Regions from separate parts of the Homo sapiens genome. Here region 1 is reported to be linked to region 2. The links are microRNA targets in miRTarBase. Many come from high-throughput screens and were not tested one by one. Region 2 holds a microRNA gene; the other region holds the end of a gene's coding sequence.

Evidence for each region. Region 2 holds the annotated microRNA hsa-miR-124-5p (CGUGUUCACAGCGGACCUUGAU, at 2,760-2,781, shown strand). A microRNA usually pairs through its seed, bases 2 to 8, with sites in the 3' UTR of a target mRNA and lowers its output. Matches are read on the target gene's strand: a 7mer-m8 pairs with bases 2 to 8, a 7mer-A1 pairs with bases 2 to 7 and ends in A, and an 8mer does both.
Region 1: miRTarBase lists VAC14 as a target of hsa-miR-124-5p. Seed matches in the 3' UTR shown: 8mer at 3,379-3,386.

What each region holds. Positions count from the first base shown.
Region 1 is chr16:70,684,174-70,688,656 of GRCh38, forward strand. VAC14 (VAC14 component of PIKFYVE complex) reads right to left here. Exons shown (of 19, transcript NM_018052.5): 19 at 3,266-3,917. The coding sequence ends at 3,755. MTSS2 (MTSS I-BAR domain containing 2) reads right to left here and starts at 1,880. Exons shown (of 15, transcript NM_138383.3): 1 at 1,550-1,880. The coding sequence starts at 1,618. RefSeq lists an enhancer at 3,408-3,914.
Region 2 is chr8:9,902,219-9,906,218 of GRCh38, reverse strand. It overlaps MIR124-1 (microRNA 124-1), which reads left to right and starts at 2,747; the gene lies at 2,747-2,831. MIR124-1HG (MIR124-1 host gene) reads left to right here and starts at 2,890. Exons shown (of 3, transcript NR_024281.1): 1 at 2,890-4,000. It overlaps LOC124902057 (a long non-coding RNA gene), which reads left to right. Exons shown (of 4, transcript XR_007061170.1): 2 at 857-1,060; 3 at 1,591-1,687; 4 at 2,032-2,149.

The DNA of each region.
Region 1 (4,483 bases), not on the chromosome of region 2:
GGGTGCGGGAAGGCCCATCCGGAGCCAGCTCTGGGATCGGCCAGGGGAGGGTGGTCTGTGTTGCCCAGTCCCTTAACAGGATCCTGGGGCCAGGGCTGTGATGTCCACAGGACAGGTGGGGACTGCTGGGGGCCAGCGGAGGGGCCCAGATGTACAGTTGCAAGAGATGGGGGTCCCAGGGGGAGTGCACCATGAGGGGCAGGGGGTGGGGGGCATCTACAAGCCGCTAACTGGGTAGTCCCAGGCCAGGCTGGCTTCAGGCCTCTTCCGGGGGCAGAGATCTGGCAGCTGTCCCTGGGGCTGTTGTCCTGGCAGCACCGGGAGCCTCGAACTCCAACCTGCCAGCAACCCCCACCCCTCACGGGGCCTGTCCTAGCAGCACTGTACTGGGTGGTGTCACCCCCATCCCTGGCCTGGTGGGATTCTGTGTTGTGCACTTGGAGAATCTGCGCTGGGCTGTGGGGGTGGGGGCCCTTGGGAGATCCTGTGGGGTGCCTCGTTCTTTCCCCTTCTCCCAGCCCCCAAATCCTGCCCCTTCATCCTAGGCTAAGGAAAGGGGGCACGGCAGGAGGGCAGGAATACTGGTTCCTGGCCCCCACCCTATCACTGGAGCTGGGCCCTCTCTGCCTAGTCAGCGTAGGGCAGCCCTGCCAAACCCTGGCCTCATTTGGGGAGAGGAACCCACTAATTTTCCCAGGAGGAAAAATGGGGGCTGAGGTCAGGGGAAGGGTCCAATAGTCTCCTTAGTGACCTTGAGCCATTTCCAGGCCTCAGTTTCCCCACCTGGTGGGGTGAGGAATGAATGGGTGGTTGGATCCAGCCTGACCTTAAGCAATCCTGGGAGACAAGGAGGGCTCGGAGCTGAGAGCCCAGGGTGGTAATGGGGTAGGAAAAGCGCTTCCTTGGGGTTGCTCCACCGACCCCAACCTTCATCCCGCCTCCTCCCAAGGTGATGATCAAGGCCTATCCTTGGGATGCAGGGACATTCAGCCTGGAGACCTTGGAGTCCTGGAGCTTCCTGGGGCTGTGGGGGTGGGGCGGGGCTGGGGGACGCAGTCTCACGGTCGGGTGCAGAGGCCTAGGTCGGCGGGGAAGGAGTTAACGGTTCTCCGCTTTATTATTTTTTCCTGCTTTGGCGGTGACAGCATTGTCTGGGCTCCGGGGCCGTGGGGGAACATGGTGGTGGAAGGGGGCGGAGGCCGGTAAGACCCCGGACTCGTTAAAGGGCCCTAGAGTCGGTCCTGGATCCAAACCCCATTCATGGTTTGGCGGTCTGGGGCGCAGGGAGCCTGCGTGTGCACAGGCTCGGGTCAGGACCCCACGGGGCCACCGCGGGCACCGCACGGACACCCCGACACACGAGCACCCACACCCCCAGACGGGCACCCGGAGACACGGGCGCCCAGCAGACGCAGGCAGGACGCGCTCAGACAAGGACACACAGACACCGCGGCGCGCGGCCACACGAGGCTCGGCCACCCGCCGCCACGCGTCCCCGGGGGGTCCCGCACCCGTCGCCGCGCGCCCGGCCCCGCCGCGCCCCGGTTACCTTCATGTCGTTGACTATGGCCTGGAAGAGCCCGCCCAGGGCGCCGCACTCCTTCTCCGCCGTCTCCATGCTCTGGCTGGGCCGGGCCGCGGCGGCGGCTAGGCGCACGGAGCGCGGGGAGCAGCGCAAGGGAGGGGGCCAGGCCGCGCGGGCGCTCGCTCCGAGGCCGGGCCGGGCCTCCCGCCTCCAGGCTGCGCTCAGCGGCCGGCCGCGCCGCGCTCCGGGGTCGCGGGCCTCCGGCGGGCGGCGCGGGCCATGTCGCAGCGGGGCTGGCGGGCGGCGCGGGGGGCGCGGCGCGGGCAGCTCGCGGCGCAGCCTCGGCGCGGGGACTGACGGCGGCGGTAATCCGAGCCGCCGAGGATCGGGCGTCACGTGGGCGCGGCGGAGGGGGGACCGCGAGGAGGGAGGGAAGGAGGGCGGGCCGCGCGGGAGGGGGCTGTGGGAACGGCCGCGCGGGCGCAGGCCCATTCACGGCCAGAAACCAGGGCTTTGAAATCCGAGCCCGGGCGCTGCCAGACTGGTCCGGCGAGCGGGGCCGACGGGCGCGGGCGCCACCGAGGGTCGGGGGGCGGCGCTGGGCGGGGCCCGCCCTGCCCACGCAGGAGCGGGACTGGCGGTTGGGCCTCGGCCCCCGGGCAGGGGCTCCACGATATCTTCTGGCCTTTGGTCTGGGGCGGGGGGCTTCTCGCGCTTCTAAAGACAGGCAGTGGGTACAGTGGCGGGATGGGGTCGGTGCATGGGCTGGATGGGTGGCATACACCGCACACAGCAGGGCGCGGGGTATCGTGGAGCCGCCCGCCTTGGGACGTTTCATCGCAGGCACAGACCTTCCTCAAGTTCGGACCCTTCCAAGTTCCTTGGCTCCTTCTCCAAGTGGTGCCGATGCCACCCGGATGGGGTGCCCAAGGCTGGGCATTTGGGGGGCAGTGGTAGTCTCCTGGGCCTTGAACAACCTCCTTCTTCGCGGGTGGGGGCTAATGTCGGACCTGCAGAGCAGAGCTGGAGTGTCCTTGGTCTCTGCTGCCTGAGTCCACGGTGGGTGCGATGCACACACGTGCATGGGGTAGCAATGTCAATCGCAGCCTGTCCTGGAGACTCCAGGCAGGGAAACCCACCCTGGGGGGCAGCACGATGGGGGAGCGCACTCTGGGGAAGAGCAGGCACAAGCTCCTTCTCGCCTACTCCATGGGCCGGAGGGAGCCAATTACAAGCTCATTAGGAGACCAAGCCCAGGGTTCCCAAAGCCTGGGGACAGGTGGTACCACTCCCGGTGAGGAAGGGCTTTCAGCTGCAGCAGTGGTTGGGGCACCTGCCCCTCCCTGGACTGCTCTGGGCTTTTCCTCCCCTTGCCCCGAGATCTGCAAAGTGTTCTGCAGTGTGCATTGCCCTTTCATCCAGGAACTCCTGGGGCTCAGCTCCCATGTCCCCAGTGGGGAACTCCCATTGCCCCAGGGAGTCAGGATGAGAAAGGCAGATTGGGGAAGGCAGGGTTCAGGATTCCAGGGCAGGCAGTGCATGGTGCTCTCCAGGAGGGTGCAGGTTCCAGAGGTGGGGACCTAGGCTCTAGGCCCATGGCTCCACTCAGGTGAGTGCAGGGACCAGGCCCTGGGGCAGCCAGTACTCCTTGGGGCCATCATGAAACCCGATCTCCAGGACAGAGGGTGAGGCCCCCGGACAGCTGCACGTGTCAGCTGGGAAGGAGCAGGCCGGCTCGGGTTGAGGGTTTTCTGTTATTTCTTTATTGGGGTGGGGGTGGGGTGCATCATTCAGATCTTTGTGCTGGTGCCTACGTGCATACAAGTACACACACACACACACACACACAGGCATGTGTTCACGTATGTATACATATACACACAAGGCCAGAGCTCTAGTGTGCTGGAGGAGGGGCAAGCTCTTTTTCCAAGAGGGTATTAGAAAGAGGTTGATTCCAGAGGATGAGTGGTCTCTGAGGCTATAGCCCCCCACTGGGTGGGCAGCCAGCTCTGTGAGAATGCCAGGGTGCAGCTGACAGCGCTGGAGGCCTGGGGACTGGACTCTGAGAGGAGCTTGGGCAGACACAGCAGCCTCCGGCCCCAACACTGCCCTGGGTTGGCAGGCCCAGCCCTGGTCCTGACAGGCAGGTCCTTGAGCTCCTCGGGAGGGCGTGACGACCCTTAGTGTTTCATGGGACCACTCGGTGGGCCCTCCTCCGTGCCAGGCCTGTCAGAGGACAACCCTCCGGTCCAGGTGGTCCCCACGCCCGCTCCGCTGGTGCCGCACTTCCAGGTGCTTGTTCTGGACCTTCTCAAAGTGCTGCAGCAGCTCTGCGTAGTCGATGCTAGGGGAGTCAGCTTTCTGGGACTTGGGGGCTGCCTTTAGACTGTCTCTGGGAAGAGGGAGCAGAAATGCTCAGTGTCAGGGATCAGCTCACAGGGGGGTTACTGCTGGAGGGCAGTGGGGTCAGAGGCAGAGCCACAGGCTGGTGGGCTCGGCCTGTGGGCGTCTGTCTCAGGCCTGGCAACTCTTCCGTCATGGCGGGCCCCAGAGCTGGGAAGCCCCTGAGCATCCCCCTCTTCCGCAGTTGGTGGGAACAGCTAACACTGCTGCTTGGCTATTGCCCTCGGCCTGTGGGCTGGCGATGGCGCCCAGAGCAGGCATCGCATTGGGAAGCATTTCCTGTTTACGAGTGGCTCCCTTTGGGGTGAAAGCCAGGGCTAGCAGCCAGCCAGGAAGCCAGCTGGGGCCTGGAACAGGGTCTGGGGAGAAGGGGGAGGTGGCAGCTTGGCCCTTTCTCTGAGAGGCAGGGCTAGGACTGGGGAAAATGGGAATTGCTGAAGAGCCTCTGCCGGGCCCTCCACTTGGCAGGACATTTGTTTTTGAGTGTTGGGGCCCCAAGGCCTGCAGTCACTCACTGTCCCTGGGAGGAGGAATGCCGGTCTCACCACTGGACAT
Region 2 (4,000 bases):
CTCTCCCACTTCTCACTTTCCCCAAATCCGCATTTTCCTTGGCACAGCTCTCCCCGAGCACGAAGGAGAGGGAGGTACCCGGGGGCAGTGAGAATGACGTGTGCTGGTGCAGAGGGGGTGGGGGTCTGCGGGCCTGGATCTGTGGACGGGCTCCTAATCCTCTTGTTTTCGGAACCGTCAGCAGATGCGGCTTCCTTTACCTGAATAATCCTTTAAAGGAGTAATAATTTTTAAAAAGGAGCTCGACCTCAGCCAAAGAGGACGGCGCACGAGATTAGGGCTTGGTAAGGAAAAATTAAAAGGCTCCCAATTCTCTCTGTCCCTCTCTGCCTTCCCCTCTACCCCTCCCCCTCCCTCCTCCACCCTCCCCTCCCCTCCCCCTTCTTCCTCATCCCCTGCAATCCGCGCTCGACGCGAGTTCACGCGAAGGGCTGGATTTCCAGGCGGCTCCGCAACTTGCGCGGCGCGGTGTTATTATTCATCCGAGGGTGCTGCCTCCTCAACCTTTGCCTCCTGCGCCGCTCTCCTTCCCCCGGCCGCCGCCGCCAGCAGTGCAGTCCCTCCGGCACGCATGCTCTGGTTCACCAAGAGGGAGACTGATTTTTTTTAAATCATGCTCATCATCATCATCATCATCATCATCATCATCATCACGTTCCTTATCATGGTTATCATTTCCTCCTGCCAGGTGGAGCGACCACCAGCGCCGGCTCGCCTCCTGCGCCTTCCCCAGCGAAGGCAGCAAGCAGTTCGGGCTTGGCCGTGGCGGCCGCTCCCAGGATGCTTCCTGCACCTCCAGCATCCCCCCCCTTATTCATCTGCCTGTGTATTATCTCGATCCTTTTCATTTCAGTAGATCCACTGCCTTTGGTTGGGCCGGCTGAATCGCTGGGGACTGCGGCCAGTCTCTTAAAAAAGGAGAACAAAAAGCCGAAGACCTTGTGTGGCCGCCGGGACAAAGCACCTTGGGTTCGGCGAGAAGGGACGCGCAGGAGCGCTGAACCCAGAACACGCGTGGCCGCTGCGGAAGGGCGTCCGCCCGGCGTGCGGAACGCTGAGGGTATTCGGATTGTCTTTTATTTGTCCCTGTGGCTTGCTTTCACAGTGTCTACGTAGGAGAGGGGTCGGGGTTGTTGGGGTCTCTTTTTTTTTCTGGGAGGGGTAGCTGAATTGTGGGAGACCTAGGTGGACTTGACTTGGCTTTCCTGCTACTCTGCGTCTCCTTCTCAAGATGCGGGGGTTGGAAAGGGGACAGGGGACTCAAGGCTTAGAAAAGAGAAGGAGCCCTCTGCTGCCTGGAGGGCTAAGGGAGTAGAGAGTGGAGATGGAGGTGAGTAGGGATGGGCCAGCCCGAAGAGCACTGAGGAGGAGAAGGGGTCTTCTCCTCCCTCGGGTCCAGTGGATGAGTTTTGCTGGGAATGAGAATTCGGGTGTCTGTCGATAGGAGCGCTGAGAAATTGATGAGAAATTGACATGTCCGTGCACATGCATGAGGCGGCGACAGGATTTGTGTGTAAACAGTGTGGAGAGGTGGAGGAGGGCATGGGGGTGGGGGCTTAAAATGATGTCTTATTGTCCTTTTGGCTTTAGGGACTCTCATCCTCTGTCTCGCCCCCTTTTTTTGACCCGGGGATCCAGCCGCATTATACACGAGTGACCTTTTAAATCTACGTCCACCCTTTACCTGGTAAAGCCCGCTGACAGTTGGGGGTGGGGTGGGGAGAGTGTAGGGGTGCTCTCTCCCTCTCTCCCTCCCTCCGCCTCTCCTCCCTCCCTCCCCCCTGCACTCCTCTCTCTTCCTCCCTCCCACCTCCCTCGCTCCCGCCCTCCCTGCTGCATTTTGCATGAGCTATCTAGGTCATTAGCATTTTAGCGTATGCAAGACTTGACAAAGCTGATGAGGGGCCAGATGGGCCTCGCTCTTATGGTTTTTTTTTCTTCTTCTTCTTCTTCTTCCTCTCTCTCTCTCTCTCTCTGTCTCTCTCTCTCTCGTCTCTCTTCCTTTCCCCCCTCCACCACTTGGGACCTGAGCGAGAGGACTGCAGCAGGCGAGTTCCGGAAGGCTGAATCCCCAGGTCCCAGCCCCGGACCGCGGCAACTCGCCCCTGCGGCACGCCCGGCCCGGCTGCGCCCCCACTCAGCGATGGAGGTAAAGAGGCGGCGGCCGCGCGCCCTGCCCCGGCTGCCGCTGCCGAGTCCCCGCTGCTCTCCTTGTCCTTCGCTCTCTTCTTCCTCCTCCTAGTCCCCTTCAGTTTCCTGGGCGAAGCAGAGGGCGACATGGGTGGGTGGGTTGCTGCGCTGGGGCGAGGTGGGGTCGATGTTGTTTTTTCATTGTCTGGAGCTGCAGGGGAGGCGAGGCGCGGGGAAAGGGGCGAGGGGAGCCGGGGTAATTAACACGGGGGAGGCACCCCTCCGTCTCCCACTTCCACCCACACCCCCATCCCTCCACCCCCTCCGCTTTGCAGGAAAAAGCCTGGATGCGAAAGGATGGGGGAGAACAAAGAGCCTTTGGAAGACGTCGCTGTTATCTCATTGTCTGTGTGATTGGGGGAGCTGCGGCGGGGAGGATGCTGTGGTCCCTTCCTCCGGCGTTCCCCACCCCCATCCCTCTCCCCGCTGTCAGTGCGCACGCACACGCGCCGCTTTTTATTTCTTTTTCCTGGTTTTCTTATTCCATCTTCTACCCACCCCTCTTCCTTTCTTTCACCTTTCCTTCCTTCCTTCCTCCTTTCCTTCCTCAGGAGAAAGGCCTCTCTCTCCGTGTTCACAGCGGACCTTGATTTAAATGTCCATACAATTAAGGCACGCGGTGAATGCCAAGAATGGGGCTGGCTGAGCACCGTGGGTCGGCGAGGGCCCGCCAAGGAAGGAGCGACCGACCGAGCCAGGCGCCCTCCGCAGACCTCCGCGCAGCGGCCGCGGGCGCGAGGGGAGGGGTCTGGAGCTCCCTCCGGCTGCCTGTCCCGCACCGGAGCCCGTGGGGTGGGGAGGTGTGCAGCCTGTGACAGACAGGGGCTTAGAGATGCAAACAGACTCAGGGAGAGAAACAGAAGCTGATTCTGTGACAGAAGCAGATCTGTGCAGCACAGATGCGGTGTGCGTGGGGAGGGGGTCGCCTGGGAGCGCATTGCGGAGTGCTTGTGTGTGCAGATTTTTCTCTGGGCTCAGGACTCATTGTATGTGGGTCAACACCTTCCTCCGTGACTGTGTTTTTGTTCTGAGCTGAGTTTTTTGGTTTGCCCTTAAAAAAATAATAATTTGGCATCCAGAGACTGGCAGACTGCCTCAGGGCCTGGACTGCGGATATATTGTGTTCTGCTTGAGGTTTGGGGAGGAGGGCAGGCGGTAGGAAGGGAGAGGGGGAGCTGTTTGTCACACTTTGCTGTAGAGCTGAGAGCACCTGACAAGCTTAAGGAAGTCGTTGGGCTATGTGGACAAGAAGGAGCCAGCTCCCAGCGGGTTCACAAGCTCTATCGGAGTTGAAAGCGTGGTCATGGCTCTAAGGAGCACCTCACGCCCTCCCTGTAGCTGTTATTGCAGTTTCAGGCAGAGATCCAGGAGCTGCAGAGGAAGGGAGAGGCACAATAACCTACATGGACCCAAGGGAGACATGTGTTCCTTTAAAAATGTGAACAGAAGGAAAAACAGAATGTGTGCAACTGGGGGTCTGAGGAAAGACTGTTTTGAAAGAGGCTGTCAGGGAATGGAAAGGGTTAAGCTTTTCATCCTGAAGAACCTGCTTCCCAAATCAGGCCTTCCTCCCATCACTAGACCCTGAGCAGCAGCTGGTCCTAGAGACCCCCCTCGTACTGCGCTGCCACAGTCTCATCCCATTTCCAGCTCTGTATTAACCACCAAGCTGCAGCGGATGGGGCAAGACCTAAGCTCATTAATTTCCAGGTGGAGGAAATGGAGGAGGGGCAGGTCCCTGCAGTAGAGGGAGGAGCAGAGAAAGGAGGCCAAGAGCTGGATCCTTCTGCCCAGGAAGCCTGCTGCATCC